2 linked regions of the Homo sapiens genome follow. The protein of the gene in region 2 purifies or fractionates together with the protein of the main gene of each other region. This does not show direct contact. Each region holds a gene or a part of one and is shown on either strand. Other genes may lie near its edges.

What was found. Proteins that work in one complex are often made in the same cells at the same time.
Region 1: the proteins of PIP (region 2) and STRN3 purify together in Homo sapiens (co-immunoprecipitation; 2 studies listed by BioGRID and IntAct, with this or other methods). This does not show direct contact.

What each region holds. Positions count from the first base shown.
Region 1 is NC_000014.9:30,911,018-30,915,653, forward strand, and holds part of STRN3 (striatin-3), read right to left. Parts: intron 2,641-4,636; coding exon 2,507-2,640; intron 1,166-2,506; coding exon 990-1,165; intron 808-989; coding exon 760-807; intron 146-759; coding exon 24-145; intron 1-23. UniProt on the Homo sapiens protein: Calmodulin-binding scaffolding protein which is the center of the striatin-interacting phosphatase and kinase (STRIPAK) complexes.
Region 2 is NC_000007.14:143,130,055-143,135,634, reverse strand, and holds the start of PIP (prolactin-inducible protein precursor), read right to left. Parts: upstream 3,559-5,580; 5' UTR 3,519-3,558; coding exon 3,424-3,518; intron 442-3,423; coding exon 336-441; intron 1-335.

The DNA.
Region 1 (4,636 bases), on a different chromosome or scaffold from region 2:
TACATTTTGATCATTTTACTTACCATATGTATCATATGGATCTACACTGGGACTCGGCATATTCCACCACTGGATGGTTGCATCAATACCACCACTAAAACACTGTTCTCCATTAGAACTAATAGCTAATGACAGAACAGGGCCGCTATTGTAGGAAGAGAGGAAAAACAAATTACTGATAAATTCTAAGAAGAAACTCAAATCTCCATTCCCCCAACCTCTGAATTTATGTAATATCTAAAAACTGTTTTAAGAGAACATGTACACCTGACTGGTACTTTTTTTTTTTTTTTTTTTTTGGAGACAGGGTCTCACTCTGTCACCAGCCCAGACTGGAATGCAGTGGTGATCTCTGCTCAGTAAAACCTCCACCTCCCAGGTTCGAGCGATTCTCCTGCCTCAGCCTACTGAGTTGCTGAGACTACAAGCGCACGCCAACATGCCCAGCTAATTTTTGTATTTTGTGGTAGAGACGGAGTTTCACCATGTTGGCCAGGCTGGTCTCGAACTCCTGACCTCAAGTGATCTGCCCGCCTCAGCCTCCGAAAATCCTCAGATTACAGGCATGAACTACTGCATCTGGCCTGAATGGTACTATTATATTCATAGTCTCACCAATACAATTATTAAATAGCTATTATTCAAGTAATACATCTTTTCTAATACAAAACATTGAGAAAATTACAAGGTTTGAGGACCGATAAATAATATTTAACAATAATGATGATGTTAATTAAATACCAATTCAGTAAAACTTACATGTGGGCCCTAAATGTGTAGATAGGCTCTACATCTAAAGAGGCACTCCTAAAAGAGGGGGAAAAAGGGTAGGGGAAGAGAAGGCAATTAAATAACTATGAATCACTGGTTGATATTAAATAGTCATTAGATCAAATGTGTGCATTAAAGACATGCAACAATAATGAGGAATAATTACTTATATTAGCAAAATTGGAAGAAATACACCAGGCTAACACTAAAATACTTGCTTTTTGGCAGGAACTGTTTTTTGCAGGTTCCAAAGTTTCAGGGTATGGTCCTCAGAAGCAGTAACCAGCACAGGTTCTACAGGATGAAAAGCTAATGCCCGTACTCCATCAAAATGGCTACGTAGTGTATACTTGGGATTCCATGTCTTTCGAAAGGCATCTTTATTAGCAGGCAACTAAAAGGAAAGAGCACAATATTTAGTGGTAAAAGTAGTAAACTGGAAGGCATGTGGAGTGTTTGTTCGTTTCTTTTTGGTGTGTTTAACACATATATTTAAAACTGTTGGCTAAAATGTCCAGTGGAAATTTAATGTACCTTTAAAACTTTCTAAAAAAACTTTATCATTTAATAATAACTCAGAATAATTTCATTCGCCTTACAAATAGCCTAGGTCAAATGAAGAGTTCCTTAATCTGTTTTTACCTATTAAGCTAAACCCAAAGCTCCCATTAAATGTCAGATGAGAACAAAATAACTACCATTGCTGCAATACTTTACATGAAAAATAATTACATAAGTTATTACAAATATCCAACGGTACAGTATTAACAGTAAAGTTGTCATTTAGAAAACGTATTAGCATGTGAAATTATTAAAGGCAGCAAGTTAAGGTACTTTCTGAAAGTCTGAACTAAAGACCCTTTAAGAATATTTTTATCCCATTTTCATAATTCTTGATATTGACAGAGGTTTATCTTTTTACCTTCACATTTCTCCATCTGTAAAGATAGGCTGTGAAACCACTTCTAAAGCAGTCAAAAGTTTACTGGAATTTAGTCACTTATATACTTAAAAAAATATATTAATGAGAATAATCCAGCCCACCAAAGGCTGTCTCTAAGCATGCTAATGTTAAGTATAAAACGTGGAAAAAAGAAACTCATTATAAAAAGAAAAAAAAATTGCTGAAAAACTGCAATTAACATAAAGATCTAACAAGTATAGTTAACTCTCAATTGAAATATTAATGACTAGAAAAAATTAAATCCAAGACAAGTTTCACCTCTAACACTGGACTCCCCACTCCCCAACCCTTCCATCCACTCCCCAATCCTCTAATGAAGGAGTTAAGTATTCAGGAAATGATGCAAGCTAACTTTAAAATGTTCAGAAACTTTAAAATATTTCCTTAAGAAAATAAAAGTTCAAAAATAAAACATGCTTTTTAAGAAGTACTCTGAAGGCAAATATATGATTCAGGTTATTTTTTTTCTTGTTAACACCAAAATATGGCTTAATTTGAGATAATTGAGAGTTGACTACTCAAGATGTATTTACTGACCAATATATTAATCATCTCAAACTTCTAGTTAATCCACCAAAATACCTAAAAAAAAAATTTAAATACCACAAAGAGAGTAGTTATAAAAGAAAAACATGTCACTTCAAATCAACACATTGACACAAACTTATCTTTTCCATGCACCTTGATATTAATTCTGTTTTATAAGTGATTCCAAAAAATAAGGAGCCTTCTATTAAATCATTAAAAAATTAAAAATAAAACTGCACTTACATCATAACTATAGTCTGCATCATTTGTTACCGTCAAGTCTGCAAGGTCTCCAAGGCCCAGTACACTTAACAAAACATCATCAGAACCCATAATAAATGACTTGCCTCCTCCAGATGGAAACGTTATTGGTTCAGCTATAAAGAACAAAACCGCTTCTTAAATGCTGAAAAATCATACAGTACAAGACAATATTGTGGGGAAAATTTAAGCACTTAACAGTTACAATATTCAGTAATATAATTAATTTTTATTTTCCCACTTCTACTCAAAAAATCCTGTTACTAAGCAGTGTTAAACAAATGTGTTGGAACTGTGGTGTATTAACTGTCCACAAATAAAATGTGCACTAGATATATTATTCTGGGGTGGAAGCTAGGGCACAAAAGCTTTGTCTGTCTAAATCTCTTATCACTTCAGTACAATTATAACTATAGTTTACATGTTAAATAAGAAATAGGACAAATTTTGATTAAATAATGGAGTTAAATATCAGATTTTTGCATTCATGAGGGGAAACCTCTACCATGGACCTCAAGGACCTCAAAGTAGTCATATAGTATTTTTTAAATGTTAATAGGTTGTCACCAAGTCCTTTTGCTTTCTAAAGAAGTACTAGGCATCCTAGTCCCTGATAAAAACTAGTACAAACATTGAAATGTAAATGGTTTACAGTCAGCTATATACTATATCAGTTCACTAGAATGAAGCTTTAATTGTTCAGATTCCTTTAGTAACAGCAATGGTCTAGGAAAAAATTCTTCCACCAACAATGTCAGTTTCCTTTCTATAAAAGGTTAATCCACGTGGTCTTCAGAATGTCTTCCAGCTTTATTTATTTATTTATTTAGAGACACAGTCTTGCTCTGTCGCCCAGGCTGGAGTGCAGTGGTGCGATCTCGGTTCACTGCAACCTCCACCTCCTAGGTTCAAGCAATTCTCCTGTCTCGGTCTCCCAAGTAGCTGGGATTACAGGCGCCCGCCACCACGCCCGGCTAATTTTTCTGTTTTTAGTAGAGATGGGCTTTCACCATGTTGGCCAGGCTGGTCTTGACTCCTGACCTCAAGTGATCCACCTGCCTCGGCCTCCCAAAGTGCTGGGATTACAGGCGTGAGCCACCGCGCCCAGCCTGTCTTCCAGCTTTAAAGCTTTGACTATGACTTTTATTTTAATGTCCCATTCTAGTTACCATGACACTCTAAAATGAAGCAAGTAATCTTGACCACAGAGCTTTAATTTCTGATCAGATTTGCCATTTCAATTTCAAACTAAACTCAGGTTGAGCTTCACTTAGTTTTCTCAACTATATCATGTGCATTATTACAGCTTTTCATGTTAATATTAACAGTTCCAATTATTTAAAATGCGTTTTCCTTTCTATACATACTACTGACCAATTAAACTCTGCCATAATTGAATGACTATTATCTAAATATTTTGTTGTAACAGTCATAGTTTAAGCAACAACCTTCAATATCATTTCAAATATGCTTTGAAAGCAAAATTTTAACATTAAGATAACAAGGGAGAAATACTCAAATCATAATATAAAACTCAATATATCAAAACACACTTAAAATTCATGAGCAAATTTAAAAGGGACACATTATACAAAAAATCAAGCTGATTATCAATTTTAAAAAAATTCCCATGAAAAATGATATAAATATGCTACAGGAAACACAACAGGTGTAATGAAACTTGACAGTCATCACTAAACTACTGGAAATAATTCTGAGAAGACACAATTCATATATATACTATGGCAAAATAAAATTCAACTGTACTTAGAATATCTTGTTATTTTATTATTTTATCCTATCAAAATAAGCTATATAATCTGACTCAAATAGGGCTCTAAAATGCAGCTCTGATTCAGTTACTTGATCTAAAATGAATCTGAAAGCACCTGACAGAAAATATATAGAGATATTAAGTAGTATTTAATCTTTCAATGATGACACTTATTGAATCTGAATAATCTGTAGCATTGATCTTTTGATCTTTTCCTACCAATTATTAGTATGCAGTTATTGGCAATACCAGAAGCAGCTAAAAACTATAAAATCAATAATTTAAACTTATGTTTAAGGATAATTATATAAAAGTCATTATATAATATTTACTCAAAG
Region 2 (5,580 bases):
ATCCTAAACTAAACATGCTCAGGACCTTGGAAGGACTCTAACTGCTTCTCTACTAGCTCTTACACTTTTTTCTTTTTCCCTCTTTCTCACTTCCTATTCCTTCTTCCTTTCCTTCTTATTTATCCTAGACTTCTCTGGATTCGAACTTCTTCATCTGGAAAATGAGAAGTCATCTGTCCCAAGCTCCCACAGTTGTTCTGAGTCTCAAGTAGCATAACATAAGTGAGAATGTTTCATTAAGTACACTGTACATTATTAAAGTGAGAGATTAAATTATGTTTATAATCAAGGAGTTGAATTATCTTTTGAAGTCACGCCCCCAGTCCTCTACTTACCACCATGCATTCTTTCAATTCTGTTTGAACTGCAAGCACTGCAGTGACTTCGTCATTTGGACGTACTGACTTGGGAATGTCAAAATTCTTTATTATGATCTTCCGACTGATTGTGGGAAGAGAGAATCAGAACACCAGGATCAGAGACCAATCTTTGAGTGAGGGGGGAGCCATGAACAGGGCAAGGGGCACAGGATGGGCAAGGGAGGGAAATTATGGGGCTTGGATCAATTGTTCAGCATTGGAATCCCCTGGAATTTTCATGTGTTGATTGGATTGGTAACTTCACACAGATTTAATTTTGTTTAATAAAACAACTAGGACACTTTAAGATTCCTTAAAGAACTAAAAGTAGAACTACCATTTGATCCAGCAATCCCACTACTGGGTATCTACCCAGAGGAAAAGAAGTCATTATTTAGAAAAGATACTTGCACATGCATGTTTATAGTAGCACAATTCACAATTGCAAAATCATGGAACCAACCCAAATGCCCATCAATGAACGAGCATCTTCTTCCCTTCCATTGACCAAAAACAAGTTTTTAAAAAGAAAAAATGTACAATACCACATGCCACTTCCTGATAACATCCTACAGGCTCTGGTGGTTGTCTACTGAGTAGGAGGGCTCAAGTCATTATTAGGAGAAAATTTTCTAGCAACAGAATCACATTAAACCAGCAAACCTCTTGATCAGGGAAATGCAAATCAAAACCACAATGCGATACCACCTTACTCCTGCAAGAATGGCCGTAATCAAAAAATCATAAAACAGTAGATGTTGGCGTGGATGCAGTGATCAGGGGACACTTCTATACTGCTGACGGGAATGTAAACTGCTACAACCACTATGTAAAACAGTGTGGAGATTCCTTAAAGAACTAAAAATAGAACCACCATTTGATCCAGCAATCCCACTACTGGGTATCTACCCAGAGGAAAAGAAGTCATTATTCAAAAAAGATACTTGCACACACATGTTTATAGCAGCACAATTCACAATTATAAAACTGTGGAACCAACCCAAATGCCCATCAATCAACGAGTGGATAAAGAAACTGTGGTATATATATATATATATATATATATATATATATATATATATATATATATATGATGGAATACTACTACTCAGCCATAATAAGGAATGAATTAACAGCATTTGCAGTGACCTGTATGAGATTGGAGACTATTATTCTAAGTGAAGTAACTCAGTAATGGAAAACCAAACATCGTATGTTCTCACTGATATGTGGGAGCTAAGCTTTGAGGACTCAAAAGCATAAGAATGATACAATGGACTTTGGGGACTTGCGGGGAAGAGTGGGAGAGGGGTGAGGGCTAAAAGACTACAAATATGGTGCAGTGTATACTGCTCGGGTGATGGGTGCACCAAAATCTCATCACCACTAAAGAACTTACTCATGTAACCAAATACCACTTGTACCCCAGTAACTTATGGAAAAATAAAATAAAATAATAAAAAATTTTAAAAACCCAGCAAACATCTCAATGCACTGGAGGTATTTGTAGGAGCATCTTTGAAGATCCTCCTTCTGTGGTCCCCAGGTAGGGTTTAGGAATTTGTATTTATTTAGCTCCTTAGGAAATTTGGACATATGGCCATGTTTGGGAACTTTAGATACTACTCTACATTTAGACCATACACTGCAATCTGAAAAGGAAAGGAAATGGAGACAAATAAAATGGTCAAATGTTCTTCTTCAGTCAATGAGGACTGGGTTCGGGGCCAGGAGAGTTATTTTCTCGTCCCTAGAAACTCCCGGCTACGGACCTTTGTTATTGTGTGGGACAGAAGGGAATTGAGATTCTTAGCCCACAGTGTCTCACAGCCCCATTTTCTTGGGGCAAAGCATCTTAGAGAGATTCTATTTTTTGGTGCCAACTGCTGTAGTGCCCAGTGCACAGGAAAAGGGTATAAATACCTAAGCAACTTCAAAATCTCTCCCATTTGTATATGAGTTTCAGATTGATAGGATGACCAGCTTAGTTCGAGTGACTAACCATCTCAGTTTACCCAGGACTGAGGTCTTTTCCAGAATGGGTTGTGGAGGTGGCGGGGGAGGGCAGAGTTGCAGTGCTACAACCAGGAAAGTTCTGGGCAAATCAGGATGGATGGTTGATAACCTAATTAGCATAGCTTATTTGAATACCTTGCTGCCCTTCAGGGCTAAGTGGACTGTCATCTGGCGGGAATGGGGTGGGATCTGAACCTGTCCCCATGCAGGGTTTCTTGGGACACTTGCCTCCATTACATTAGCTTGTCAAAACCCTGAACAGTTTCCTCCAGGACAGGATATCTGACCATGCCATAGAGAGTACCTCCAAGATCACAACCCAGAAACCCAGCATTATAAACCCTACTGCTATAGAGAAAACTCCCTAGATTGGGTATCGCTGCTTTCTCCCAGACCCTTGGCTCCATTTTCTACTTTATTTTACTTGCTCCAATTTTTCTGCTTCCTTCACACATGTGTTCTCAATAAGTTGACTTCTGAACCTGTGCTCTCAGGTCCCAGTATACGTGAGAGCAAGAGGTCATCATATTCATCTTCAGACTTCAGGTTAGGAAGAATGTCTAAGCTGCCAGTCTAGCTCAATCTCAGACCACAGGGCAGTGGCCAGGGCCTCTGGTCCTTTAGCCAGTCCTGCCAAAGCTGCCCTAAGCTGCCATTGGAATTCACAGACCTGTTATGCTTCTCTTCTAGGAGGCAAGGTGTGAGAAGGTAAAGTTTACTGAGCAGAAATCTGAACAAAGGTATAAATTATGAACAAGATGTGGATCAGCATGTTAGATGAAGACTAACTACTAATTACAGCCTGTAGGTACATTTGGAGCTTTATTTCCACTGGCAATGCAGAAACACCCAGCAAAAATGTGAGAGGAGTTGGTGGGGCTTCCTAAGAGGACAAGAAGTGGAACCTGGCAGGAGATCCATGGGAGCTCCTGGGACTAGAGTTCTGGGAAGTTGAAAGAAATTCTCAGAAAGAGATATGTAATTTCCAGACTGGGAGAGGAGCCCTCCCTGCAATTTTTTTTGTGGGGAGGAGAAGGGCATGGCTCACGTGTTGTCCTGAGCTTTGTTGGCCCCCAACTGCAGGCAGAGAACCAGGAGCAGGGTGGCAGGGCTGGCCCTGAACAGGAGCTGGAGCAAGCGCATGCTGGAGAAAACAGAAGGCAATGTGTCCCAGAGAAGTGGTGTCCCAGGTGCCCAGCACATTTCTTATATACAGATTGATCAAGGAAGTGCAAGAGCTGCCAGGGAGATCCATGAGGTGAATCACCCATTCACCCTCCCCACTCGTGATCTTTCCTTGTTGACCCAAAGTTTGTTTTTCTAAGAAAAAATCAACACTCAGCTAGAATGTCAGCGTTTGAGAGAGGAGTCAGATTGTTCTTCCTTATTTTTTCAGCATCAGAGTTTCTCAAAATGGCTGGGACCTCAAAAGATACACCAGTTTTTCCCGAGTTTACAGATTCAGTTTTCTTTTCCCTCCTAATTTGCCTGTCTGAAGTGCTATGTGTAGTCTTAGCTTCAGTCACTGCTCCCCTGGTCTCTGAAAGCAGAGAACACAGCTGTGGTGGCAGGTTTCAGACCAGAGACATAGAACATCTTTGCTTGATCAAATTATAGTGAGTTCAAGATGCAATGCTATTCAAAACATTTCTTGGAGGGCTAGGATGATCAGGACTTCCCTAGCAGTCACTACCCATCATGAGGTGGAAGAGCTAGAGAAGACCTGAGCTGCTCTACATGATGGGGAAGTGAGTTCAAGACACTGGGTGATGTAAAGATGTTTATTGTCATTGAGTCCTTCTTAATTTCAGGTGTGGTTGCAATATACTGCAGATGTCCAAGATCCCCAGCTGCCCCACAATCCCCAAGGCAGGGTGATATTTTAATTCTAGACAATTCCTATAAATAGCTGGCACCCCCAAATCAGACTTCTTGGCACCAAAGAGCTGGCTTATTTTCTTATTGACATGGCCACTTTCTTACACTTGTCTCATGCGTAAGCCACACAGGAAGAACCACAGTGGAAAGGATTCCTTCTGTGAGAATGGAGCCCACATTATGTCCAGTAGATACCCAGGTTGTAGAATTCCTCTCCTTGGGATGATGGGGAGACTTGCTCTTGCTGACACTGGCATTGTGTTATTTCTCCTTATGAAATTAAATCTGCTCCTTAACCTATGACTTACAATACTATGGGATTTGTTTCTATCATTTGCATGGCACACAGCTGCCCAGGAAGAGCCTCTCTGGCAACAGAGTGAAAATCAGAGTTCTAGGAGTTACCGCCTCTGTATGTTGCTTTAGCCAGGATTCAGAGCTAAAGTGTAAGTGTGTGCTTCTGCTTTCTGGATGTATCTCTCAAAATTGCTCTGTCTGTTTATTCAGCTCCTGGATCTACCTTCTCTTTTCTTTGAATTGGACACCATTCATGTCATTGCTCACTCAGAACTTCAGCTGTTCTCATGATCACATGCTTTCTTCCCTGTTTATGTCCTATCCACTCAAGAACACTGCTTGTGAGGGTCACAATGACCTTCCTTTGTAAGCCTTTTCCCACAATTAAATTGTCTTTACACCTGGTCCTTCTCACTTGCATAATTTCCATTTGAAGCACATCCTAGCTACACTGACCAAGGCAGGCATAAGGCAGAAGAATCTAGGAAGTGTCTGTGTGGGAAAATGCAGGAAAAGTTCTTTGCTTGGCTCTTTGAAGGCATAGCCCTGTCCTTGAGGATGCAACTCCAGCACTCCCAAAAGGCAGTGTCCAGAGGAAGGCAGATGACGATGGGTTAAGAGCATCTATTGAAGGTAATGAGGCTGTTCTTCTGTGAGCTAGCAGGAAACTGCAATACCTACAATGTACAGGACAATCTTTTTTTTTTGAGACAGAATCTCACTCATCCAGGCTGGAGTGCAGTGGCATGATCTCAGCTCACTGCAGCCTCCACCTCCCGGGTTCAGGAAATTCTCATGCCTCAGCCACCCGAGTAGTGGGGATTATAGGCAGGTGCCACCATACCCGGCTAATTTTTGTATTTTTGGTAGAGATGGGGTTTCACCATGTTGGCCAAGCTGATCTTACATTCCTGACCTCAAGTGATCCACCTGCCTCGGCCTCCCAAATTGCTGGGATTACAGGTGTGAGCCACTGTGCCTGGCCTAGGACAAGTCTTATTCAGGCCATGACTGCTGTGATGGTTACTTT